4 linked regions of the Homo sapiens genome follow. The protein of the gene in region 3 interacts with the protein of the main gene of each other region in a pairwise test. Each region holds a gene or a part of one and is shown on either strand. Other genes may lie near its edges.

What was found.
Region 1: the proteins of TRIM69 (region 3) and AIFM2 interact in binary tests that used the Homo sapiens proteins (3 or more experiments, as listed by UniProt).
Region 2: the proteins of TRIM69 (region 3) and STMN3 interact in binary tests that used the Homo sapiens proteins (3 or more experiments, as listed by UniProt).
Region 4: the proteins of TRIM69 (region 3) and NEK8 interact in binary tests that used the Homo sapiens proteins (3 or more experiments, as listed by UniProt).

What each region holds. Positions count from the first base shown.
Region 1 is NC_000010.11:70,129,794-70,137,062, forward strand, and holds the start of AIFM2 (ferroptosis suppressor protein 1), read right to left. Parts: upstream 3,033-7,269; 5' UTR 2,941-3,032; intron 1-2,940. UniProt on the Homo sapiens protein: A NAD(P)H-dependent oxidoreductase that acts as a key inhibitor of ferroptosis.
Region 2 is NC_000020.11:63,639,188-63,643,432, reverse strand, and holds the end of STMN3 (stathmin-3), read left to right. Parts: intron 1-1,133; coding exon 1,134-1,325; intron 1,326-2,035; coding exon 2,036-2,095; 3' UTR 2,096-3,721; downstream 3,722-4,245. UniProt on the Homo sapiens protein: Exhibits microtubule-destabilizing activity, which is antagonized by STAT3.
Region 3 is NC_000015.10:44,739,528-44,746,559, forward strand, and holds part of TRIM69 (E3 ubiquitin-protein ligase TRIM69), read left to right. Parts: intron 1-7,032.
Region 4 is NC_000017.11:28,724,258-28,731,791, forward strand, and holds the start of NEK8 (serine/threonine-protein kinase Nek8), read left to right. Parts: upstream 1-4,530; 5' UTR 4,531-4,556; coding exon 4,557-4,603; intron 4,604-7,534. Other genes in the region: TLCD1 (TLC domain-containing protein 1 isoform 1 precursor), read right to left, coding at 253-636, 1,047-1,129, 1,224-1,306, 1,647-1,840. UniProt on the Homo sapiens protein: Required for renal tubular integrity. May regulate local cytoskeletal structure in kidney tubule epithelial cells. May regulate ciliary biogenesis through targeting of proteins to the cilia.

The sequences.
Region 1 (7,269 bases), on a different chromosome or scaffold from region 3:
TAGAATTCACATATACAATTTACCACTTAAGATGTAAGTTCACAGTGAGCTATGATTGCACCACTGCACTCCAGCCTAGATGAGACCCCATCTTTTAAAAAAAAAAAATGAGATGTAGGCTGACTCACACCTCTAATCCCAACACTTTGGGAGGCCAATGCAGGCAGATTGCTTGAGCTCCGGAGTTCCAGACCAGCCTGGGCAATATGGTGAAACCCCATCTCTACAAAAAATACAAAAATTAGCCAGGCATGGTGGCACATGCCTGTGGTCCCTGATATCAGGAGGCTGAGGTGGGAGGATCGCTTGAGCCTAGGAGGTCGAGGTTGCAGTGAGGCATGATCATGCCACTGCACTCTAGCCTGGGCGCCAGAGCAAGACTCTGTCTCAAAAAAAAATTTTTTTTAATTTAAATTTCAAAAAAAGATGTAAGTTCAGTGGGTTTTAGTGTATTCACCAGGTTGTGCAACCATCACAACTATCTAATTCCAGAACACTTCCATCACCCCCAAAATAAATCCTGTACCCCACCTACCCTAGCCCTGGGTAGCTACTAATGTTCTTTCTGTCTCTATAGATTTGTCTGTTCTAGACAATTCATGTAGATGGAATTATACACTATGTGGCTTTTTGTTTGCGACGTCTTCCACTGATCATCATGTTTTCAAGGTTCATCCGAGTTGTAGCATGTTATCAGTGCTTCATTCCTTTTCCTGGCTGAAAAACAGTCCATTACTGGTGTATGAATAGACCACATTTTGTTTATCCACTCATCAGCTGACGGGCACTTGGGTTGTTTCCACCTTTTGACTATGTGAATAACGCCACTATGAACATTTGTGTACAGGTTTTTGTGTGAACCAGTCTTCAGTCCTCTTTAGTATATATTTAGGTATGGAATTGCTGGGTCATATGGTAACTTGAAGTTTAACTTTTTGAGGAACTGCTAAATCCACCATCTGATTTTGAACTGAACACCAAAGCCCCAGTGGGAATCACAGAGAATCTTAACTATGTCTGTCTAGGTTCAAGAATGTTAGCTTAAAAGAAGGCCTAAGAGAGCGGAACAAACCCTGATTGTCCAGGAACCCCTCAGTAACTTTACCTTTGCTCCCTGCCACAACACACATACACACAGACACACACACACACAATCTGATTTACACAAAAATTTGCTCAGTCAATCCTGTTTTCTCTGCCAAGAGCATCCACCCTGATCTCAAGGGTATTATTCCACAATAAGCAGCCCATAGGACTACTGAAAAACCAGGAAGTTACATTTATGCCAAAGCTGTTCAGAGGTTGTGCCTCAGAAGACACACAGCAGGAACCGTGTGGGCTCTGATCAAAGCAAGAATGTCATCCCAGAGTTGCTCCAGTATTGCTTCACAAATATTACAAATAAAACACGATGCTTTTTGAGTCGTCATGGCTCACACAAAGGGTAGGTTTCAACATCAGCCTCTGGAGAGCCACATTCCCAGAGTGGCCGTCCCGGATAAGAAGGCCACTACAGCACGACTCACAGCACCATGGAGGTTTCCTCCACCTGCGGGACACAGCAGGATGGAGACGGTTGGGCGGCCTCCCTTCCTGGGACACTCCATGGCCAGCCCCTCAGGGACTACTTGAAGAACAGAACCCCCAAAAGACCAGTTTCTGAAAAGGGACTCAAAGTCTAAGGGAGGCAGCCTCCTTTTATCCCCAGGGGAGGGCAGCTCTGGGGCAGACAGGTTCATCTGGATGTCATATTCACTCCCGCACAGAAAACCTAGGCCAAGCAATTTGTCCATCCTCCTCAGAGCCAGTTTTGTGGTCCCCATGGTCTGCCCACCACCTGTACCTGGACGCTGGCTTCATTTGGCCACCAGACAAAAGTCAGGCTGGCCCTGGAGTCCACCGGCCTGCCCAGCCCATCACTTCTGGGCTAGGTAGTGCTAAGCCTGCCCAGCCCACCCTGGCTGGGGCTCAGTGCCCTCTTCTTGGTGACACACTGTGCTCCTTGGAGAACTCCTCTCTAGGTGCTGGGGTGAGGGCAGGTGTGATCTGAGATCCCGGGGCTCTCTGGCAGGTGCATGCACGCACACTGGAACCTGATACAGGCTTTTGAACACAGGTGCACAGTCCAGAAACCTGCAAGTCCCATCCCAAACTATATCTGACTCTCTGCCCTATGCCTGTCCTCCTACAGGATCATCAGCCCCCAAGAGACCTCACCACTCCCCATCCTCACCTTAAATTCCAGGGTCAAAAAGACTCTCCTTGTAGGGAAAGGTAGGGTGTGTTGATCAGGTGGTGTTGGAAGGAGAGCCCCAATATAGGCCACTAATTCAGTTCCAGGTGGACTGCACGCGTCCCATCAGAGTTAGTTTACTCACCGCTGGTCTTTGTCCCTGCAGCACCCAGGGCTTCGGGAAGGGAGAAGCAGACTTCCTAGTGCTGCACCCCCCAGCTCCCCCGAGCCTATGGGCACTGGGTTGACTCCAGTTTCTTTCCTCTTAGAGACTGAGGTTTCTCCCTTTCCTCTCACACCTGCTTCTGTCCGGACCGGCCGCTTCTACCCAGCGGACCCTCGGACGGTCCTCGCAAGATCCGGGTTACACCCGCCCCGTGTTCCCTCTTCCCCGGTTCGCCCTTCCCGGCCTAAGCCCATCTTCCTTAGGAAAACTTAGCAGGGATTTAGGGGCCAAACCAGGAGGGTGGAGTTTTCTTTGCCCTCGGCCAGGAGCACATCTCCCTGTTGCGTTTTTTGGGGGAGACAGAGAGGGGCGGGCCTGAGTCGAGTATCCCTCTCCTCGCAGCGCCACAACTGCGCGCACCGACCTCCCCACGCCAGACGCGGCGTGAGCCAGGCCTCTAATCCGCTCGCCCCTCTTCCGGGTCCCGGTCCCGCCCGGGGCGCCCGGGGTCTCGAGAGCCCGCCTGGCGGCGCGATCTCACCTGTCGGCCGCGCCCGCGCGCTCTCGCTCCGGCTCCCGCTCCCGCTCCCGCTCCCGCTTGGTCGTCTTCCCGAGTTACTGACCCGAGGCGCTCCCGGGCGGGGCGTGACTCAGCACTCGTGCTGGTCCCCGACCCCGCGGCAACGCCCCGGCCAGGCCCCGGAAACGGTCCTGGCACGCTGGGGCTGGTCTCCGAACGGCCCGCCGGACTAACCTTGACCCTGAGCGAACGGCCTTGAACTTTGAAACAAATGCTCCCATGGCCAGATGTCGCCTCTCCGGCTCCTGCCAGCACCCGCGCCCCAGTCCTGCCGAGCCATTCAGACTTGGTTTAAAGTGTCCTTTCAGCATACTTTAAAGCAAAAAAGAGAGAGAGAGAGAGAGAGAGAGAGAGAGAGAGAGAGAGAGAGAGAGAGAGAGAGAGAAGGAAGGAAGGAAAACAAGCATCCCCCTGTTCCTCTGATTTTCTCGAGGACACCTTTAAAGCCACTGGAACCTTGGAGAGTGGGGTTCCCCTCACACGTTGGGCGCACTGCCAACATCCTTCCTTCAGACATACACATAATAATTCCGCAAACCCTGTTGAGCTCCTACATTTGCCAGGCACTGTGCTAGGCGTTGGAGGGATAACTTGGAGAGAAAACTGACAAGGTTCCTGCTTTCACGGAGGCGACAGTCTGGGAAAAGACAGATATTAAACACACCACCAAAAAATACATGTATAGAGAAAACAAAAACCATGTATCACCAACTGCAGTAAGAAAGATTGGGCATGGCCAGGCACGGTGGCTCATGCCTACAGTCCCAGCACTTAGGGAGGCCAAGGCGGGAGGATCGTTTGAGCCCAGGAGTTGGAGACCAGCCTGGGCAACATAGCGAGACCTACAAAAATTAGCCGGGCTTGTTGGTGCACACCTGTAGTCCCAGCTTCTCGGGAAGCTGAGGTGGGAGGATTGCTTGAGCCCAGGAGTTTGAGGCTACAGTGAACCATGATCATTCCACTGCACTCCAGCCTAGGTGACTGTGAGATTCTGTCTCAAAAAAAAAATAATAATAATAATAATAATAAATGAAATGAAATGAAAAAATAAAAAAGAAAGACTGAGGGCAAAGGAAGGGTGCAAATACTTCTCTCCAAGGATGAGAAAGAGGTAGATTTAGGTAAAGAGGAAGGAAGTGTGGTCTGGATGTGCAAAGACCCACAGGCAGGACAATGACCTGGAAGGCAGTGTATTGCCAGCTCAAATCAGACCAAGCTAACTCAGCGAAAGATAAGCCATCTCCATCTACTTACTGCAAATATTAGCACCTACTTTAAGAGTTGTGGATAAGGGCCAGGCACGGTGGCTCACGTCTGTAATCCGAGCACTTTGGGAGGCCGAGGTGGGTGGATCACCTGAGGTCAGGAGTTCGAGACCAGCCTGGCAAACATGGTAAAACACTGTCTCTACAAAAAATTAGCCTGGCATGGTGGCACATGCCTGTAGTCCCAACTACTCAGGAGGCTGAGGCAGGAGATTCACTTGAACCAGGAAGGCAGAGGTTGCAGTGAGCGGAGGTCATGCCATTGCACTCCAGCCTGGGCAACAAGAGCGAAACTCCATCTCTAAAAAAAGAAAAAAAGAGTTGTGGAAAGGCCTCAATGAGATCATTTTTATAAAGTGTTTTAACATGGTGCCTGGCACACAGTAGCAATGAATACACAGCAGCCATTTATTATAGATATTTTATATTGCAGATTATTTTGCCCAAGGCAACCAGAATGATTTATTTTTGATGAAAAATCCTACTCATCGTCTTAGAAAAACAATAAGCTAATATTTATTGATCACGAACTAAGTGCTTTGAATGACTTCTCAAGTTTTTTTGTTTGTTTTTGTTTTTTTCACAAAGGTCCTGCAAGGTAAGTTTTATTAATCTCCATTTTGCAGATAAGGAAATTTAGGCTCCTAGAGGCTAAAGAATTTAGGCAAGGTCCCTCAGCTAGTAAAGCAAGGGGGTGGGCCTACAATGGAGGTCTGAACCATGACCCCTTTTTGGGGGGTAGGGGGACGAATCTGGCTCTGTCGCTTAGGCTGGAGTGCAGTGGCATGCTCTCGGCTCACTGAAGCCTCCACCTTCCAGGCTCAAGCGATTCTCATGCCTCAGCCTCCCAAGCAGCTGGAATTACAGGCACCTGCCACCACACCCGGCTATAGTAGAAACGGGGTTTCACCATGTTGGCCAGGCTAGTCTCAAACTCCTGGCCTCAAGTGATCTGCCCACCTCGGCCTCCCAAAGTGCTGGGATTACAGGTGTGAGCCACTGAGCCCAGCCTGAACCATGACCTTAAAGCCAGGAAACCCCTCAGCAAGCATCATCCCTAAGGAGCCAGAGGGCACTGCTCAGGCAAAGCAGAATCTCAGTTGTGGGGAATTTACTGGGCATGTACCCAGTAAGATGTGACACAGAGAGGTGAACAGAGAGGCTACAGCCTGCCCACTGCACGGAATCAGCCCTGAGGCTTGGGATGGTCATGGAAGGCTTTGTGTAGAAGGTAGGCGTGCAAGGATGAAGGGGATGCCAGCTGGCAGGATGCAAGGAAAGGACTCCAGAAAGAGCAGGACAAAGATAAAGCTGGAAGAGAGGCGAGAGAGGTGTGAGGTGGCCCAACACTGGGCTCAGGTGTGCCAGGGCTGGTGTGGCCCATCTCTAAGGACCTGTCCCAAACCATGAAAAACTTTTTTTTTTTCCTTAAGACCTGCTACAAAGCAACAAACCATGAAAATCAAGGAATTTTTCTGATTATCACTCAATACTTTCTTGGCAACCAGAAGACACCTCCATCCAGGAGAGGGGACATGGTCTCATGCAACCCCTCCAGGTAGCTCACTGCACACCACTCCTCTGGTCCCACTCAGCAGTGCCCATAGCTTTGGAACTGAAAATCAGGGCTCGCTGCCTAAAAAAGGGGTTTTGTCTCTGAAATTCCAAGTGCCAGAGGTAGCAGGAAAGTGCGGTGGTTAGGATCCTGAAAAAGTGGCAAGTTCATTCCATGGAACTTTGACGGTTAGTGGGGAGAGCAGGCAGATTGTCTAACATGACGGAATCTAAGAGGAGGAAGCGTTGCTGGCTCTCTGCTGTAATGAGCTCAGCCAGGCCTGTGGGTACTTCCTTACAGACAACAGGTGGCTTTTCTGCTGGCTCCCAGGGCTGGAGGAGCTCCAAGGTACTGGGTCATCTCAGGAGCCCAGAGAAACAGAGGCAGTATGCCCACTCGAAGAACAGGCAACTCTTAGATCTGAAGAGCCTGGTAAATGTTCTCCTTTTCCATACGTAGTTCCAACGAAATTTGTAAGCTTCAAAGAAGAGAGGAATATCCTCGTTTCTTCCTCTCTCCCCCAACACATGATTTGGTATAGTGTTCCCAGCTAGGGAGAGGCTATATTAATGAAGGTAAGTTCTGCTGCAATGACCAATAGATTCCAAATGTAATGGCTCAAATACAACAGAAGTGCACTTCTTGCTAGGGCATGAGTTCCAGGCCAGTGGACTGGTTTATGAGGCTGTCTCCCTTCACACAGGCATCCAGGGACCAGGCTAACAGGACATGGCAAGTGAGTGCCACTCATGGTCCCAAATTAGATCTTTGTTTTTCTTTTTTAGAAACAGGGTCTCCCTCTGTCACCCAGGCTGGAGTGCAGTGGCATGATCATAGCTCACTGCAGCCTCGAACTCCCATGCTCAAGCCATCCTCCTGCCTCAGCCTCCCAAGTAGCTGGGACCACAGGTGTGCACCACCATACCTGGCTAATTTGTGTGTGTGTGTGTGTGTGTGTGTGTGTGTGTGTGTGTGTTTGAAGAAACAGGGTCTTGCTATGTTGCCTAGGCTGGTCTCAAACTCCTGGGTTCAAGCCTCCCAAAGTGCTGGGATTACATGCGTGAGATACAGCACCTGGTCTCAAATTAGGGAGCTCATCAGTTCTACCTCCTGTGTTGTCACTTGATCTCACCACCACCAGTCCTGCCTCAGCCATCTTCTCTCTCACCAAGCCACTGTAACTGGTCCCTGGGCCTGTCTTGCACTTTTCCAATTTTCTCTCCACAAGGAAGCTGTGCCACACTTCCTTGTCCCAGCTCCTGCCACTCTCAGCCTGGAACACTCTGTTTCCAGTCCACTTGGTAAACTCTGAACTCTCTTTTCATGGTTCAGAGCCTGAATCACCTTGAAGCCTTACCTAACCCACCCCTTCTGGGCCCCCAGACATACTCTTCCCTGGACAGAGCTTCCCTGCTTATTGCACTAATGGGCTGACACATCAGTCTCCCCAGAGTAGCCTGTGGGTGCCTT
Region 2 (4,245 bases), on a different chromosome or scaffold from region 3:
GTGCACACCTGTAATCCCACCTACTAGGGAGTCTGAGGCAGGGGAATTGCTTGAACCCAAGAAGTGGAGGATGCAGTGAGCCGAGACTGCGCCACTGCACTCCTCAGCCCGGGCGACAGGGTGAGACTCCATTTCAAAAAACAAACAAGAACAAAAAAAGAAAGGGATGGAGAGGAGGAAGGGTTCCGAGGCGGCCACCTGGAAGGAGCAGGAGCCTCTGGTGAGGGTGGGAGGCACCCTTGTCAGGGCCAGCAGGATGCTAGGGGGTGGTCCCCAGATGGGCCCTGGGGACGTCGGGTGGGGCATCCCTCTCCCAGACAGGGAAGCTGGAGGAAGGGCCTCATGTGTGAAGACCCTGAGGCTTGCTGGAGGGCGGAGGGGCCCTGGGAGAGGTGGGTGTGGGCTCCAGGTCCCCTCCCTGCAGCCTCCCCTCCCACCAGCCCCTCTGAGACTGAAACAGAGATAAAAATGTCCTTTTGGGGGTGCCACCCTGGAGGCCAACGCATTGGGCAGGGGAAGCGGCTCCGTTCCCTTCCCGGTGAGGCCAGAGACCAGGGTTCACAGGGCTGACTAGTAGGGACTGGCATGTGGGTGCGGGTCCTGCTGCCCCGCTCTCCTCCCAGGGGTCACCAGCCGGCCCCTCCCCCAGCATCCCTGGGGACCCTCCGCTCCTGGGCACCTAATTGGGAGCTGGGAACCCGGTGTGTAACAAGCAGCTACTCTGCTCAGTGGGCGGATGTCCGAGGAAGAGACAAAGCTCAGAGACCGCCCACAAGTTTAGGGTTTCTTGCTGCTGGTCCTTGGAGGGGCAGACGCGCAGGGCAGGGTGTGCAGTGGCGGCAGGGTATGGCGGGGGCCCTGGGCGCAGCCAGGACCGCGGGACCCGCGCGCGAGGCAGGGACGGGGGCGGGGGCGGCGGATCGCGACCCCCTGGCCCTGCCCCGACCACAGGCCGGATGGCAGGCGAGGGTTCCCAGGGCAGCGCCCGGGGGTCCCGGCGCCCACCGAGGCCTGGGCAGGTGGAGGCGCCAGGTGAGGCGAGCGGGCGCTGGGCGGGAGGCGGAGAGCAGGGAGGAGTCCGGCCGGGCAGGGCCCGGGGTTGCCGCTCACGCGCGCCCGCCGGCCCCGCACAGACGCAGGAGGCGCAGGTGCTGAAGCAGCTGGCGGAGCGGCGCGAGCACGAGCGCGAGGTGCTGCACAAGGCGCTGGAGGAGAATAACAACTTCAGCCGCCAGGCGGAGGAGAAGCTCAACTACAAGATGGAGCTCAGCAAGGAGATCCGCGAGGCACACCTGGCCGCACTGCGCGAGCGGCTGCGCGAGAAGGTGCGGGGGCGGGGCCGGGGCGGAGCTCGGAGCGGGCAGGGGCCGGGGCGGGGCCGGGGCGAAGCTCGGAGCGGGCAGGGGCCGGGGCGGGGGCAGGGCTAGCAGCAGTCAGGGGGCGGGGCACTGGGCGGGGGCGGGGCCAGGGCGGAGCTCGGAGCGGGCAGGGGCCGGGGCGGGGCCGGGGCGGAGCTCGGAGCGGGCAGGGGCCGGGGCGGGGGCAGGGCTAGCAGCAGGCAGGGGGCGGGGCACTGGGCGGGGGCGGGGCTAGGGCGGAGCTCGGAGGGGCGCAGAGCGGGGCCGGGGACTCCGAGGCGCTGAGCTGGGGTGGGGGTCGGGGGCTCCTCCCGTGTTTACTGGGCGTCCCCAGCAGCGCACGAGGCAGGTCCAGAGTCTGGTCCTGGCGGGACAGTAACTAGCCGCAGTAATAGATGGCTAAATTCATTATATTGAAAGTGCCCTGAAGGAAGCTCGGCTCCGGTACGAGCTAGAAGCGGGGCCCAGCCAGCTCCCAGGAAACCCGTCCTTGGTCCCTGGCCTTGCTCTGCGCCTCCCCGGTGCTCCCGCCCCCTCAACTCAGTCAGGGTCCTGCCGAAGGCCAGCCCGGATGAGGCCGGGCGGGTGCCAGGGCGCCACGGCCTGCGCGCCTGGGGGTTCCCGGAGTCGCCCCAAGCCACCCCCGCCCTCAGGCCCTCCCGCCCCCTGTCCTGCAGGAGCTGCACGCGGCCGAGGTGCGCAGGAACAAGGAGCAGCGAGAAGAGATGTCGGGCTAAGGGCCCGGGACGGGCGGCGCCCATCCTGCGACAGAACACGTTCGGGTTTTGGTTTTGTTTCGTTCACCTCTGTCTAGATGCAACTTTTGTTCCTCCTCCCCCACCCCCGCCCCCAGCTTCATGCTTCTCTTCCGCACTCAGCCGCCCTGCCCTGTCCTCGTGGTGAGTCGCTGACCACGGCTTCCCCTGCAGGAGCCGCCGGGCGTGAGACGCGGTCCCTCGGTGCAGACACCAGGCCGGGCGCGGCTGGGTCCCCCGGGGGCCCTGTGAGAGAGGTGGCGGTGACCGTGGTAAACCCAGGGCGGTGGCGTGGGATCACGGGTCCTTACGCTGGGCTGTCTGGTCAGCACGTGCAGGTCAGGGCAGGTCCTCTGAGCCGGCGCCCCTGGCCAGCAGGCGAGGCTACAGTACCTGCTGTCTTTCCAGGGGGAAGGGGCTCCCCATGAGGGAGGGGCGACGGGGGAGGGGGGTGATGGTGCCTGGGAGCCTGCGTGTGCAGCCGGTGCTTGTTGAACTGGCAGGCGGGTGGGTGGGGGCTGCAGCTTTCCTTAATGTGGTTGCACAGGGGTCCTCTGAGACCACCTGGCGTGAGGTGGACACCCTGGGCCTTCCTGGAAGCCTGCAGTTGGGGGCCTGCCCTGAGTCTGCTGGGGAGTGGGCATTCTCTGCCAGGGACCCATGAGCAGGCTGCATGGTCTAGAGGTTGTGGGCAGCATGGACAGTCCCCCACTCAGAAGTGCAAGAGTTCCAAAGAGCCTCTGGCCCAGGCCCCTCCCCACCAGGGCTTTGCAGATGTCCTTGAAAGACCCACCCTAGAGCCCTTTGGAGTGCTGGCCCCTCCTGTGCCCTCTGCCCTGGTGGAAGCGGCAGCCACAAGTCCTCCTCAGGGAGCCCCAAGGGGGATTTTGTGGGACCGCTGCCCACAGATCCAGGTGTTGGAAGGGCAGCGGGTAAGGTTCCCAAGCCAGCCCCAACACCCTTCCCACTTGGCACCCAGAGGGGGCTGTGGGTGGAGGCCTGACTCCAGGCCTCTCCTGCCCACACCCTCTGGGCTGAGTTCCTTCTTTCCCTTGGACGCCCAGTGCTGGCCTTGGAGGACGGTCAGCTGGAGGATGGCGGTGGGGGAGGCTGTCTTTGTACCACTGCAGCATCCCCCACTTCTCCACGGAAGCCCCATCCCAAAGCTGCTGCCTGGCCCCTTGCTGTAAAGTGTGAAGGGGGCGGCTGAGTTCTCTTAGGACCCAGAGCCAGGGCCCTCAACTTCCATCCTGCGGGAGGCCTTGGCCGGGCACTGCCAGTGTCTTCCAGAGTCACACCCAGGGACCACGGGAGGATCCTGACCCCTGCAGGGCTCAGGGGTCAGCAGGGACCCACTGCCCCATCTCCCTCTCCCCACCAAGACAGCCCCAGAAGGAGCAGCCAGCTGGGATGGGAACCCAAGGCTGTCCACATCTGGCTTTTGTGGGACTCAGAAAGGGAAGCAGAACTGAGGGCTGGGATATTCCTCATGGTGGCAGCGCTCATAGCGAAAGCCTACTGTAATATGCACCCATCTCATCCACGTAGTAAAGTGAACTTAAAAATTCAATCAAATGAACAATTAAATAAACACCTGTGTGTTTAAGACATGGTTGAACTGTCTGTGTGTGTCCTGCACCTGTGGGGTCGGGGGCAGCTGCGGGCTCCCTGTCTGGGAGTGAAGATCTGCTCTGTGTGTATCTCCAGACTGAAGCTGGTTATAAATCTTATTTTATCATCATGATTATGAATTGTTCTATTGACAACAGTGATTTTAAGATATGAGCATGTAAACTACACACAAGCCCACTTTCCTCTCTGGAATCCAAGGGGTGAGGTGTCAGGGTGGGGGGTGGCAGGGCCCGCTGCTGTGGGTGGGGCTGGCGGGGGCTCCCCTGCCCTCCCTCAGGGCGGAGCCCTCCTCAGGGGCTTCCTGTTGTTCAGGACTCTGTGGCCCGCCGCTCAGGAGGAAAGGGCAGGGCCTACATATGTATGCATCTGAGGCTGGAGCCTCTAGGCTGTGGGACTTCCTGACATGGGGGCAGGTGCTACGAGACCCCTGGGGCTGCACCCCACTGTTCTGTGGACTCACCCCACTCACCCCATTCACCCCTGGGCAGCCGGTTGTTCAC
Region 3 (7,032 bases):
ATACTGTGCTTTTCCGACGGGCTTAAAGAACGGTGCACCAGGAGATTATATCCTGCACCTGGCTCGGAGGGCCCTACGCCCATGGAGTCTCGCTGATTGCTAGCACAGCAGTCTGAGATCAAACTGCAAGGCGGCAGCGAGGCTGTGGGAGGGGCGCCCACCATTGCCCAGGCTTGCTTAGGTAAACAAAGCAGCCGGGAAGCTCGAACTGGGTGGAGCCCACCACAGCTCAAGGAGGCCTGCCTGCCTCTGTAGGCTCCACCTCTGGGGGCAGGGCACAGACAAACAAAAAGACATCAGTAACCTCTGCAGACTTAAATGTCCCTGTCTGACAGCTTTGAAGAGAGCAGTGGTTCTCCCAGCACGCAGCTGGAGATCTGAGAATGGGCAGACTGCCTCCTCAAGTGGGTCCCTGACCCCTGACCCCCTAGCAGCCTAACTGGGAGGCACCCCCAAGTAGGGGCAGACTGACACCTCACATGGCCGGGTACTCCTCTGAGACAAAACTTCCAGAGGAATGATCGACAGCAGCATTCGCGGTTCACGAAAATCCACTGTTCTGCAGCCACCGCTGCTGATACCCAGGCAAACAGGGTCTGGAGTGGACCTCTAGCAAACTCCAATAGACCTGCAGCTGAGGGTCCTGTCTGTTAGAAGGAAAACTAACAAACAGAAAGGACATCCATACCAAAAACCCATCTGTACATCACCATCGTCAAAGACCAAAAGTAGATAAAACCGCAAAGATGGGGAAAAAACAGAGCAGGAAAACTGGAAACTCTAAAAAGCAGAGCGCCTCTCTTCCTCCAAAGGAACGCAGTTCCTCACCAGCAACAAAACAAAGCTGGATGGAGAATGACTTTGACAAGTTGAGAGAAGAAGGCTTCAGATGATCCAACTACTCCGAGCTACAGGAGGAAATTCAAACCAAAGGCAAAGAAGTTAAAAACTTTGAAAAGAATTTAGATGAATGTATAACTAGAATAACCAATACAGAGAAGTGCTTAAAGGAGCTGATGGAGCTTGCTGTATTCAGGAAACCCATCTCACATGCAGAGACACACATAGGCTCAAAATGAAAGGATGGAGGAAGATCTACCAAGCCAATGGAAAACAAAAAAAGGCAGGGGTTGCAATCCTAGTCTCTGATAAAACAGACTTTAAACCAACAAAGATCAAAAGAGACAAAGAAGGCCATTACATAATGGTAAAGGGATCAATTCAACAAGAAGAGCTAACTATCCTAAATATATATGCACCCAATACAGGAGCACCCAGATTCATAAAGCAAGTCCTGAGTGACCTACAAAGAGACTTAGACTCCCACACAATAATAATGGGAGATTTTAACACCCCACTGCCAACATTAGGCAGATCAACGAGACAGAAAGTTAACAAGGATACCCAGGAATTGAACTCAGCTCTGCACCAAGCGGACCTAATAGACATCTACAGAACTCTCCACCCTAAATCAACAGAATATACATTTTTTTCAGCACCACACCACACCTATTCCAAAATTGACCACATAGTTGGAAGTAAAGCTCTCCTCAGCAAATGTAAAAGAACAGAAATTATAACAAACTGTCTCTCAGACCACAGTGCAATCAAACTAGAACTCAGGATTAAGAAACTCACTCAAAACCGCTCAACTACATGGAAACTGAACAACCTGCTCCTGAATGACTACTGGGTACCTAACAAAATGAAGGCAGAAATAAAGATGTTCTTTGAAACCAATGAGAACAAAGACACAACATACCAGAATCTCTGGGACACATTCAAAGCAGTGTGTAGAGGGAAATTTATAGCACTAAATGCCCACAAGAGAAAGCAGGAAAGATCCGAAATTGACACCCTAACATCACAATTAAAAGAACTAGAAAAGCAAGAGCAAACACATTCAAAAGCTAGCAGAAGGCAAGAAATAACTAAAATCAGAGCAGAACTGAAGGAAAAAGAGACACAATAAACCCTTCAAAAAGTTAATGAATCCAGGAGCTGGTTTTTTGAAAGGATCAACAAAATTGATAGACTGCTAGCAAGACTAATAAAGAAGAAAAGAGAGAAGAATCAAATAGAAGCAATAAAGAATGATAAAGGGGATATCACCACTGATCCCACAGAAATACAAACTACCATCAGAGAATACTACAAACACCTCTATGCAAATAAACTAGAAAATCTAGAAGAAATGGATAAATTCTTCGACACATACACCCTCCCAAGACTAAACCAGGAAGAAGTTGAATCTCTGAATAGACCAATAACAGGCTCCGAAATTGTGGCAATAATCAATAGCTTACCAACCAAAAAGAGTCCAGGACCAGATGGATTCACAGCCGAATTCTACCAGAGGTACAAGGAGGAACTGGTACCATTCCTTCTGAAGCTATTCCAATCAACAGAAAAAGAGGGAATCCTCCCTAACTCATTTTATGAGGCCAGCATTATCCTTATACCAAAGCCGGGCAGAGACACAACCAAAAGAGAGAATTTTAGACCAATATCCTTGATGAACATTGATGCAAAAATCCTCAATAAAATACTGGCAAACTGAATCCAGCAGCACATCAAAAAGCTTATCCACCATGATCAAGTGGGCTTCATCCCTGGGATGCAAGGCTGGTTCAATATACGCAAATCAATAAATGTAATCCAGCATATAAACAGAACCAAAGACAAAAACCACATGATTATCTCAATAGATGCAGAAAAGGCCTTTGACAAAATTCAACAACGCTTCATGCTAAAAACTCTCAATAAATTAGGTATTGATGGGATGTATCTCAAAATAATAAGAGCTATCTATGACAAACCCACAGCCAATATCATACTGAATGGGCAAAAACTGGAAGCATTCCCTTTGAAAACTGGCACAAGACAGGGATGCCCTCTCTCACCACTCCTATTCAACATAGTGTTGAAAGTTCTGGCTAGGGCAATTAGGCAGGAGAAGGAAATAAAGGGTATTCAATTAGGAAAAGAGGAAGTCAAATTGTCCCTGTTTGCAGATGACATGATTGTATATCTAGAAAACCCCATTGTCTCAGCCTAAAATCTCCTTAAGCTGATAAGCAACTTCAGCAAAGTCTCAGGACACAAAATCAATGTACAAAAATCACAAGCATTCTTATACACCAATAACAAACAGAGAGCCAAATCATGAGTGAACTCCCATTCACAATTGCTTCAAAGAGAATAAAATACCTAGGAATCCAACTTACAAGGGACGTGAATGACCTCTTCAAGGAGAACTACAAACCACTGCTCAATGAAATAAAAGAGGACACAAACAAATGGAAGAACATTCCACGCTCATGGATAGGAAGAATCAGTATCGTGAAAATGGCCATACTGCCCAAGGTAATTTATAGATTCAATGCCATCCCCATCAAGCTACCAATGACTTTCTTCACAGAATTGGAAAAAACTACTTTAAAGTTCATATGGAACCAAAAAAGAGCCCGCATCGCCAAGTCAATCCTAAGCCAAAAGAACAAAGCTAGAGGCATCATGCTACCTGACTTCAAACTATACTACAAGGCTACAGTAACCAAAACAGCATGGTACTGGTACCAAAACAGAGATAGAGATCAATGGAACAGAACAGAGCCCTCAGAAATAATGCCGCATATCTACAACTATCTAACCTTTGGAAACCTGAGAAAAACAAGCAATGGGGAAAGGATTCCCTATTTCATAAATGGTGCTGGGAAAACTGGCTAGCCATATGTAGAAAGCTGGAACTGGATCCCTTCCCTACACCTTATACAAAAATTAATTCAAGACTGATTAAAGACTTAAACATTAGACCTAAAACCATAAAAACCCTAGAAGAAAACCTAGGCATTACCATTCAGGACATAGGCATGGGCAAGGACTTCATGTCTAAAACACCAAAAGCAAGGGCAACAAAAGCCAAAATTGACAAATGCGATCTAATTAAACTAAAGAGCTTCTGCACAGCAAAAGAAACTACCATCAGAGTGAACAGGCAATCTACAAAATGGGAGAAAATTTTCGCAACCTACTCATCTGACAAAGGGCTAATATCCAGAATCTACAATGAACTCAAACAAATTTACAAGAAAAAAACAACCCCATCAAAAAGTGGGCAAAGGACATGAACAGACACTTCTCAGAAGACATTTATGCAGCCAAAATCACATGAAAAAATTCTCACCATCACTGGCCATCAGAGAAATGCAAATCAAAACCACAATGAGATACCATCTCACACCAGTTAGAATGGCATCATTGAAAAGTCAGGAAACAACAGGTGCTACAGAGGATGTGGATAAATAGGAACACTTTTACACTGTTGGTGGGACTGTAAACTAGTTCAACCATTGTGGAAGTCAGTGTGGTGATTCCTCAGGGATCTAGAACTAGAAATACCATTTGACCCAGCAATCCCATTACAGGGTATATACCCAAAGGACTATAAATCATGCTGCTATAAAGACACATGCACATGTATGTTTATTGTGGCACTATTCACAATAACAAAGACTTGGAACCAACCCAAATGTCCAACAATGATAGACTGGATTACGAAAATGTGGCACATATACACCATGGAATACTATGCAGCCATAAAAAATGATGAGTTCATGTCCTTTTTAGGGACATGGATGAAATTGGAAATCATCATTCTCAGTAAACTATTGCAAGGACAAAAAACCAAACACTGCATGTTCTCACTCATAGGTGGGAATTGAACACTGAGAACACATGGACACAGGAAGGGGAACATCACACTCTGGGGACTGTTGTGGGGTGGGGGGAGGGGGGAGGGATAGCATTAGGAGATATACCTAATGCTAAATGATGAGTTAATGGGTGCAGCACACCAACATGGCACATGTATACATATGTAACTAACCTGCACATTGTGCACATGTACCCTAAAACTTAAAGTATAATAATAATAAAAAAAATGGTGGAGTAGAGAAGTCCCAAAGTCCATCCCTCCACAAAAACTGGCAAAAATTTTGAAGATCGAGTTTTTTAAAACTTGAAACTAATCAAAAGCTTACAGCAACCAGGGAAATATTTAATAATAATTAAATAAAACCTTGAATCTCTGTAAAATAACTTTTTAACACTTTAACTTACTCAGGTTTTCCTCATTTCCCATCTTGGTGGTGGTTTTAAAGACAGCTGACATTCCAACTACAGGTACATAGTACAAGTGGGAGCAGCATGGACCTTATTCCCAAAGAACTGTGGCTTTGACCTGTCTGGTGCTTCCATGAAGTATTACATAAAAGGCTTGCCATTAGTTTGTTTAACTCAGAACTTTTTCACAGATGAGATGGCTACCCTGGAGGTATAGTTTGGAAACATTTAAAAGCAAATGTTTTTATTGCTGCCACCTGGGGAAAGGCATAATAGTTGGGGCAAACAATAGAGTAACCAAAAAGCTGAGAAAGAAAGGCTGGGGAAAGAGTTATTTTGGGGAATACCCTTTGAAAAGTACCCACATATTCCTGGTAATCTAGAAGGCCAACTGCATGCCCAGGACTGAGTGCATACTAAAAAAAAAAAAAAAACCTGAGAAAGACCCCAAGTTTTCTTCTCGGAGTGACTTTTAGGATCTGTGTAAGCAGGAACTGAGGACTAAGGAAGTTGTAAACTGTGTGTTGAAGGCATGCTCAACATATACGAAGCCCATTTACAAAGACTGGGAGGTTTTTGTTGTTGTTGTTGTTTGATTTGGGTTGATTCTAGGCATTTAAGGAAATCTCTGTTGAACTATTAGATGACTACTAAGTTCATGGGACAGAATTCAGTAGCTACATGTGACGAAGAATACAGACTTTACAAAATTTGTTTAGAAAAGTCACTAACTAAACAAAACAACTACAACAAGAAGTAACAAAAAACCCCAGAGAAGGTGGAAGATTCTGATTTCCAGAGATTTCACATTATACTTGTCAAAGTATCGGATATTCAACAAGTATAAATAAATAAGAACATATGGCCCATGGACAGGAGAAAAGGAAATTAATAGAAACTATTCCTGAGGAAGCTCAGACATTGGACTCACTAGACAAAGATTTTATATCAATTATTTTAAATATTCTCAAATAGCTAAAGGAAACAATTTGCAAATAAGGAAACCATGAGACTGATGTCTCACCAAATAGTGAATACCAGCAAAGATGTAGAAGTTATAAAAAGGAACCAAAGAGAAATTATGGTGTTGAAAAGCATAATAACTGAAATGAGAAATTCGCAAGAAGTGTTCAAATCAGATTTGAGCAGGCAAAAGAAAGAATTCATGAAACTGAAAATAGGTCAATTGAGATTATGCTGAAGATCAGGGAAAAAAAAGAATGAATAAAAATGAGCAGAGCCTCAGAAACCTGTGGGACTGTTATGCATAGTTGGAGTCCCAGAAGAGAGGAGAGAAGGGGACAGAAAGAATGCTTAAGGAAATAATGGTTTAAAACTTTTGAAATTTGACAAAAGGCATAAAGCTATACATCAAAGAAGCTCAACAAACTCTATGTAAGTTAACAGAGAGCCACACCAAGTTATAATTAAACTATTAAAAGCCAAAAATAATCTTAAAAGTAGCAAGAGTGAAGTGACTTATGTACAAGAGAGCCTCAATAAGTTAACAGCTAATTTTTCATCAGAAATCATGGAAGCCAGAGAGCAATGGGATGACATCTTCAAAGTAATTGAATAATCCACAAAGAATTTTGTATCTGGCCAAACTATCTTTCCAATATGAAGAAGAATTTAAGACATTCTCAGACAGACAAAAACTGAGCTTATCTCTAGTAGATCTTACCTACAAAAAATGACAAAGGGACTTCTTCAAGCTGAAATGAAGGGACATTAGACAATAACTTGAACCCAGACAAAGACATAAAAAAAGCACTCATCAAAGAACTACCTATTTTTGGTTTGTAACTCTTCTTTTTTTTCTAAAGTTTTAAAAGATAATAGCATAAACCAATAATTGTATATAAAAAAAGAAATCAATCTTAGTTTAAAACTCAAGTGTGCAAAGAA
Region 4 (7,534 bases), on a different chromosome or scaffold from region 3:
TCTGGTAGCATTTTGTCCTCACACACCCATCTACTATGTCCAACCGGTCTGTCTGCTTCCCTCACCCCTTGCCCAATAAAGGACAAGGACTTCAGAGGAGTACTTTCATTAGTGTTTTCAATAGTGTGGGCGCAGGCTCAGAAGGTGGAGAGGCTGGCCTCAGAGGACACCCAGGCTTGGGGCTAAGTCCCAGTGTCCATATGAAGCTGTTTCTGGCCTTGTCCGTTTTTGTTGTCCCAGGCTCTGTGCCCCTCACTCAGTCAAGAACTTGTCTTTGTGTTGCTTCTTGGGGACATGCTCAGGGCAGAAGTCAGAGCGGAGGAGGCGGGAAAAGTAGATTATGATCATCACGTCCAGCATGAGCAGGATACCCAGCAGGAAGGTGCCCAGGGTCCTCTGGTTCACATAACGCAAGAAGAAATGGGTGAGGTAGGCCTGAGGGGCCAGGCGGAAGAGAAAGTACATGACCAGGTTCACATACTTGTTAACCCGGTAGAGGAGATGATCCTGGGCATTACTGATTTTCATCATCATGCGAATGGTGAGGAAGATGTTGCTGACTTCCACCAGTAGTGTTAAGACACCCCCACCGACAAAGCTGCTCCAAAAGATGCCGGAGAAGAAGGCACCCATGGCCTAGAGGGAAGAAAGAATAGGAGTTAGGGAACCCAGATGCAGACGCTTTCCTGGAAGTTTGGGGGGTGTGGCTATCAGATTGAGGGCTGGAAAATCCCAAATTTCCCCCTGGAATAATAGTTTATAGTGGGTAAGATGCTTTGTTTTGTTAGTTCAACATTACTAGATTTTGATTGCTGCTCACAGCTGGCTGTGGGTGATGTTCAGTCTAAAGAGGCAGTGAAACCATGGGTTGCTGGCCTCAGTGAACAAGTACAGACTGCCAACCTCCAGCATCCTAGCATAAGAAGTAGCACACAGGTCGGGGGTGGGTGGTAAGAAAACACGGCCTTCTCCCAGATTCAGAAAGACGGAGCTGAGACTAGATTACTGACACCAGGCCTATACCACATAGTCTGCTTCTCTCTTACCATGACGTGATGGACAAGGTATTCCCAAGAGGCTCGCGTCTGTCCGCTAGCCACGATGTCCACCGTATCGTGGATGAAATACCCTAGTGGAGGGATGGGGCAAGAGATCATGAACTGAACAAGCAGCTTCCTTCTCCCTGTCCCCAATTTGCCTCCCGCTTCCTGGGCAAGACCTACCCGCAGAGAAGCAAACGAGCAAATAGCCAGAAAGTGACCACGCCGTCTCAATCTCCACTAACATGTCAGGAGTCTGCCATACACTGGAAAGGAGGGAAGAGGAGGCTCTGCATTTCGGCACCCTCAAGGACCATCAACTTCTCGGTTACCCTTCGCAGCCCCGGGGGATCCTGGGCTCGCGCTAGTGGCTGACTGGGAAGCTAAGAGTGGCTGGGCAAAACCCAAGAGCCTCCAGTTTCCCAGGGGCGATCCCCCTCCCCTGGGGCCACTGCGGCTTTTGGTTGGATAGGATACCAAACGGGATCAGGTGAGACTGCGTGGCCTCAGCCCGCCAGTGAGCGATGGGGGTAGTAACACAAGAGCCGGCCCCGGCTCCCCGCTCAGGATCCCCTGGCCACCTCATTTCCACAGTCGCTCACTCACCACAGCAGTGCCCAGATCCCCGACACAATGGAGTGAGCGAAGGAGACGAGCAGGTTGTGCCAGCGCCAGGTGCGCAGGGGGTCGGCGCGCACGTGCACGGGTAGGGGCAGGCGACAGAGCGCGCGCCGGAGCGCCCGGAAGGTCAGCGTGGCGCCCAGGAGCAGCGGCAGGGCGGGGTGCAGCAGTCGGGGCATGCTGGCCCTCCCTGCCGTCCGCCCTCGAGGCCGCCTCCTAGGTCTGTTCTGGGAACCGGGATCCCTCTCGGGCCAGTCCAGGCCGGCCGCCTCTCCCGCCGGCCGCCAGCCCCACACAGTTGGCGAAGCCCTCTAGGCCCCTTGGCTCCTCCTCGCCCTCCCTGCGAGGCCTCTGCCCCCGCCCCCAGCCGCCCGCGCCCCCGCCCCGCCCGCCTGCCCCCGCCCCGTCCGCCTGCCCCCGCCCCTCAGGCGCTGCTGCCGCGCGAGCCGGGTGTCCCCGTGGCCTCTCGGCCACCGGCCGGCTCCCGCGGACTTCGGGTAACTAGGAGCTGTGCTGGGGGCGTCGTCGCCGAGACACCCCTCGCTGGCGCCTCCCGACTGCCGACGGAGTCCCCGCTGCCCTCGCTCGCCTGGCCTCATTAACCCGCGTCCCCACTTTTCCCCGGGCCACCGGCTACCCCGCCCTGGGCGGGTACCGCGAGAGCTCTCTCCGCCCTCTACTTTCTGCGCAGAGCTGGACGGGACCCGACACGCCCACGCCCCCTAAGTCCTGGTCCTGGGGTGGGCTCCGGAGCCCCGCGTCCGACAGTGGTCTCCGTGCAGACCCAGTGCCCCTACCGCACCACTCGCAGTCTTCTGGCCGGAGTCCCGTGTTTACCTGTCCCTCCCGCGCCCGCGAGGTGGGCACTTGGGAACTGCTGAGTAACCCATCGCCACCTCTTCCCGCCGGCTCTTAAACTCCTGGGGCCGGGCGGCTGTCACAGTCCTCCCTCAGACAGTCCCGGCCCTCGGCCCGGCTCCCCGGAGGCTGGGCAAGCAAGACCTCCGATTTGCCGGGACAGCTGGAGTGACCCGCGCTCTCCAAGCCGGTAGCTTGCAGCAGTTGCGGCTCCTAGCCACTAGGTGTCAGCCTGCCCTCACTGTGGCGCGGGCTCCCCCTCCCGCCTCCGAGCGAGGCAGCTGCTTTCGGGGAGAGTTTAGGTATAAACTCTGGGCGAAAGGAGGAGCAGCTGAGAGCCAGCGAGGGAAGTTAAGCGGAGATGAGAGCGGGGAGGGAGAAGAGGGTAGTAATAGAGGAGGGGCGGGAAGAAGCGGGGGAGGGGAAAGGTGCTGCGGGCGGGAGGAAGAAGCCGAGAAAACCTGAGGCGCAAGGACCCAGGGACCAAGCCGTTTGAGTGTTTTCCTCCCCTATGGCTCCAAGGTTACACATTAACCCCTGTGGGACTCTTAAGTCAACCAAAGCCCAGTCGGTTTCTAGGTGAGAACACGGGTGTCCTGGGTGAGCGGCTTTCCCGCCCCTCCCCTTGGCTCACAGAGCTGCTCTGTCCGCCGGCCGACACCGGCCTGAGCCAGCGCCCTTCCAGCAGTCATTCCACGTGGGTGGGTTTGGATACCCTTGCGAGAGCCAGGACAGGGGCAGAAGATAAAACGCCCCTTTCCTCACACCCCTTGCCCACTCTGATACAGGGACGCTAACCTTCAGCTAGTGACCATCCTCCTCCTGAATACTGATGTTTTCTTTCTTTCTTTTTTTTTTTTTGAGATGGAGGCTCACTCTATCGCCCAGGCTGGAGTGCAATGGCACGATCTCGGCTCACTGCAACCTCCGCCTCCCAGATTCAAGCGATTCTCCTGCCTCAGCCTCCCGAGTAGCTGGGATTACAAGCGCGCGCCACCGTGCCCAACTAATTTTTGTATTTTTAGTAGAGACGAGGTTTTACCATGTTGGCCAGGTTGGTCTCAAACTCCTGACCTCAGGTGATCCGCCCGCCTCGGCCTCCCCAAAGTGCTGGAATTACAGGCGTGAGCCACCGCGCCTGGCCGAATACTGAGTTTTTCTAGAGCTCCCGCAGAGCAGGAGCCCGGGAGAACCTGGAATTAACCTCACTTCCGGTAAAGAGCCTAGCTGGTCACACTAACCAGCCCCCTGCCTCTAGGCTTTTGCCTTGAGCTCATTTCGGCGAAACCGCGGTCTTTCCTTCTCCCCTTGATGCTTTCAGGTACTGACCCACTACCGCCCCCATCTTCCCCCATGGGAAGATGAGCACTGAGGGCAGATTACCCTCCTGCAGCGCGTGTGTGAAAGGGGAGTTGAGAGTGCTGACGAGCGCGGCGCTCACTAGTCGGGACGGCCCGAGACCGTGTCATGTCCTCTTCAGGTGAATCAACTTGCACGACTTGGGATTTCCCCCGTCCCTCCCCAGGCAAACACGAAACCAACCCTGCTGCCTTCTCCCAGGAGCGCTGGTCTCGGTCGTTTTGGGTGTGTTTATCGTTTGCGTGCCAAGGAGAACCCGCTTTCTCCTGAAATAGCGTCACTCGTGGGCAAGAAGGGGGTCAATCTTCTCTTCCCACCCCTTCCCGGCCTGTGGGGTTTAACTCTCGGGAACGCGACATCCTTTTAGTCTAGCAAGCTTTACAAGGGCTGGGTATATGTGTGGGAGGGGCGGGTACCGTGCCCGCCATTGCGGGCGCGCCCTATTTTCTTGCCCTATTCTTGGACACTGCGTGGGGCAGGGTCGTGAGGGGAAAAGTGACGGCGTGTCGCAGCGGGAGGTGTGTGGTGCAGGCCCACAAATACGGACGCGTGGCGGAACCCACACCTAGGGCGCTGGCTCCGCCCCGCAAGCCGCTCGCCGTGAAGGGGCGGGGCCCAGAGTGGGTGGGTCCGCGCACGCGCCGCGTGGGGGACGGAAGTGAAACTCTAAGAAATGAGATGGAGAAGTACGAGCGGATCCGAGTGGTGGGGAGAGGTGCCTTCGGGTGAGCCAGGGCTCTGGGGGAGGAAACTGCTAGGGGATAGGGAAAATAAGCCCCAATTCCGCCCGCGAAGTCGCCGCCCGCCTAATCCCGCCCCAAGGCGTGAGCGCCACTCTGGGAAGCCCCGCCCAAGCTTCCGGTCCCAGTCCCCCGGGGAGACTCCGCCTCTACGGAGGCCACGCCCCTGACAGGCCCATTGCTCCGCCCACTGAGTTATGTTAGCTTCTTTATTCATTCGTTCAACAAATACTGAGTGCCAGCTATGTATGTCAGGCTTTGGCCGCTGGGTATATAGTTAGAACCGGAACGGGCGTGGTCTTTTCCCTCTTGGAACTTACTGACTGTGGGAAAGTTATACAATAAACAAAACATTATGAAGTAAGAAGTTATAGCAGTTATGAAGTGTTATTAGCAGGTTGTGAGGATAGAGTACATTACCAGTGAGAATACTTATATGAGATGGTCAAGGAAGAATTCTCTGAGAAGGGAGATTGCTTGCTTGCTTGATTGATTTTTAAGACAGAGTCTCCCTCTGTCACCCCGGCTGGAGTTCAGTGGCACGATCTTGGCACACTGCAACCACCACCTCCTGGGTTCAAGCAATCGTTGTGCCTCAGCCTCCCGAGTAGCTAGGATTACAGGCGTGCGCCACCATGCCCGGCTAAATTTTTTGGATTTTTTTTTTTTTTTTTTTTTTTTGAGGCAGTCTCACTCTGTCGCAGTGGCGCGATCTCGAGTGCAGTGGCACTATCTCAGCTCACTGCAACCTCTGCCTCCCTGGTTCAAGCGCTTCTCCTGCCTCAGCCTCCCGAGTAGCTGGGACTACAGGCACGCGCCACCATGCCCAGCTAATATTTTTTGTGTTTTTAGTACAGATGGGGTTTCGCCATGTTGGCCAGGCTGGTCTCAAATTCCTGACCTCAGGTGATCCGCCCGCGCCGGCCTCCCTAAGTGCTGGAATTACAGGCGTGAGCCACCGCGACAGGCCAGAAGTGAGATTTAAGGCCAAGACTTGAGGAATGAGGACCAGTAGTCTGCAGGTGAAGGGAGAACTTTTCAGGCAAAGGAAATAGCGTATGTGAAATGTCTCACATGGGAAAACAGAGCATTCAAGAAACCGAGAAAGACTAGTAATAGTTGGAATGTAGTGGGCAAGGTAGAGAATGGTATAAAATGTAATTGTCGAGGGCGGGGACTAGATTATGGCCTGATAACCTGAGATAAAAGGTTCATTTGCCACAAACGGTTTTGTTTTGTTTTTGTTTTTGTTTTTGAGACGGAGTCTTGCACTGTCGCTCAGGCTGGAGTGTAGTGGCAATCTCAGTTCACTGCAATCTCCGCCTCCCGGGTTCACGCAATTCTCCTGCCTCAGCATCCTGAGTAGCTGGGACTACAGGCACACGCCACAACAACCGGCTAATTTTTTTTTTTTTTTTTTTTTTTTTTTTGTGAGACAGAGTCTCCTCTGTTGCCCAGGCTGGAGTGCAATGGCACCATCTTGGCTTACTGCAAGCCCCGCCTCCCGGGTTCAAGCAATTCTCCTGCCTCAGCCTTACAGGCGTGTGCCACCATGCCTGGCTAATTTTTTGTATTTTTAGTAGAGACAGGGTTTCACCATGTTGGCCAGCCTGGTCTCGAACTCCTGACCTCAGGCGATCCACCTGCTTCTGCCTCCCAAAGTGTTGGGATTACAGGCGTGAGCCACCACTCCCAGCCACCAGGAAGGGTTTTAAAGAGGAAGAGTGATCCTGAGACTTGGCAGAGTTTTCTGAAAAGGGGCAGGGTGCAGTGGCTCACGCCTATAATCCTAGCACTTTGGGAGGCCGAGATGGGCAATTGCTTGAGCTTAGGAGTTAGAGACCAGCCTGGGCAACACAATGAGTCCCCCTGTCTACAAAAAAATAAAAAAATTAGCCAGGTATGGTGGCATTGGCATGTGCCTGTAGTCCCAACTACTCAGGAGGCTGAGGTGGGAGGATCACTTGAGCATGGGAGGTGGAGGCTGTAGTAAGCTGAGATGAGACCCCTGCACTTCAACTTGGTTGACAGAGTGAGAACCTATCTAAAAAAAGAAATAATACAAGAAAAAAAGAAAGAAAGGAAAGAAAGAAGGGGCCGGGCACGGTGGCTCAGGCCTGTAATTCTAGCACTTTGGGAGGCCGAGGTGGTTGGATCACCTGAGGTCAAGAGTTCGAGACCAGCCTGGCCAACACAGTGAAACCCCATCTCTACTAAAAATACAAAATTTAGCTGGGTGTTGTGACGGCTACTTGGGAGGCTGAGTCAGGAGAATCGCTTGAACCTGGAAGGCAGAGGTTGCAGTGAGCTGAGACTGTGCCATTGCACTACAGCCTAGGCAACAAGAGTGAAACTCTGTCTCAAAAAAAAATAAAAACAAAAAGGCCGGGCGTGGGGGTCATGCCTGTAATCCCAGCACTTTGGGAGGCCGAGGCGGGCAGGTCACGAGGTCAAGAGATCGAGACCATCCCGGCCAACATGGTAAAACCCCGTCTCTACTAAAAATAAAAAAATTAGCTGGGCGTGGGTGGCACGCGCCTGTAGTCCCAGCTACTCGGGAGGCTGAGGGAGGAGAATTGCTTGAACCTGGGAGGCGGAGGATGTAGTGAGCCGAGATCGCGCCGCTCCACTCCCGCCTGGCAACAGAGTGAGACTCCTTCTCAAAAATAAAAAAAATAGAAAAATAAAAAATCTTATCAGACCATTCCTCTATATTTTGTCTTTCTTTCTTTCTTTTTTTTTTTCTGAGACAGAGTCTCGCTCTGTCACCCAGACTAGAGTGCAGTGGCACCATCTCGGCTCATTGCAAGCTCCGCCTCCCAGGTTCACGCCATTCTTCTGCCTCAGCCTCCCTAGCAGCTGGAACTACAGGCGCCCGCCACCACTCCCGGCTAATTTTTTTGTATTTTTTAGTAG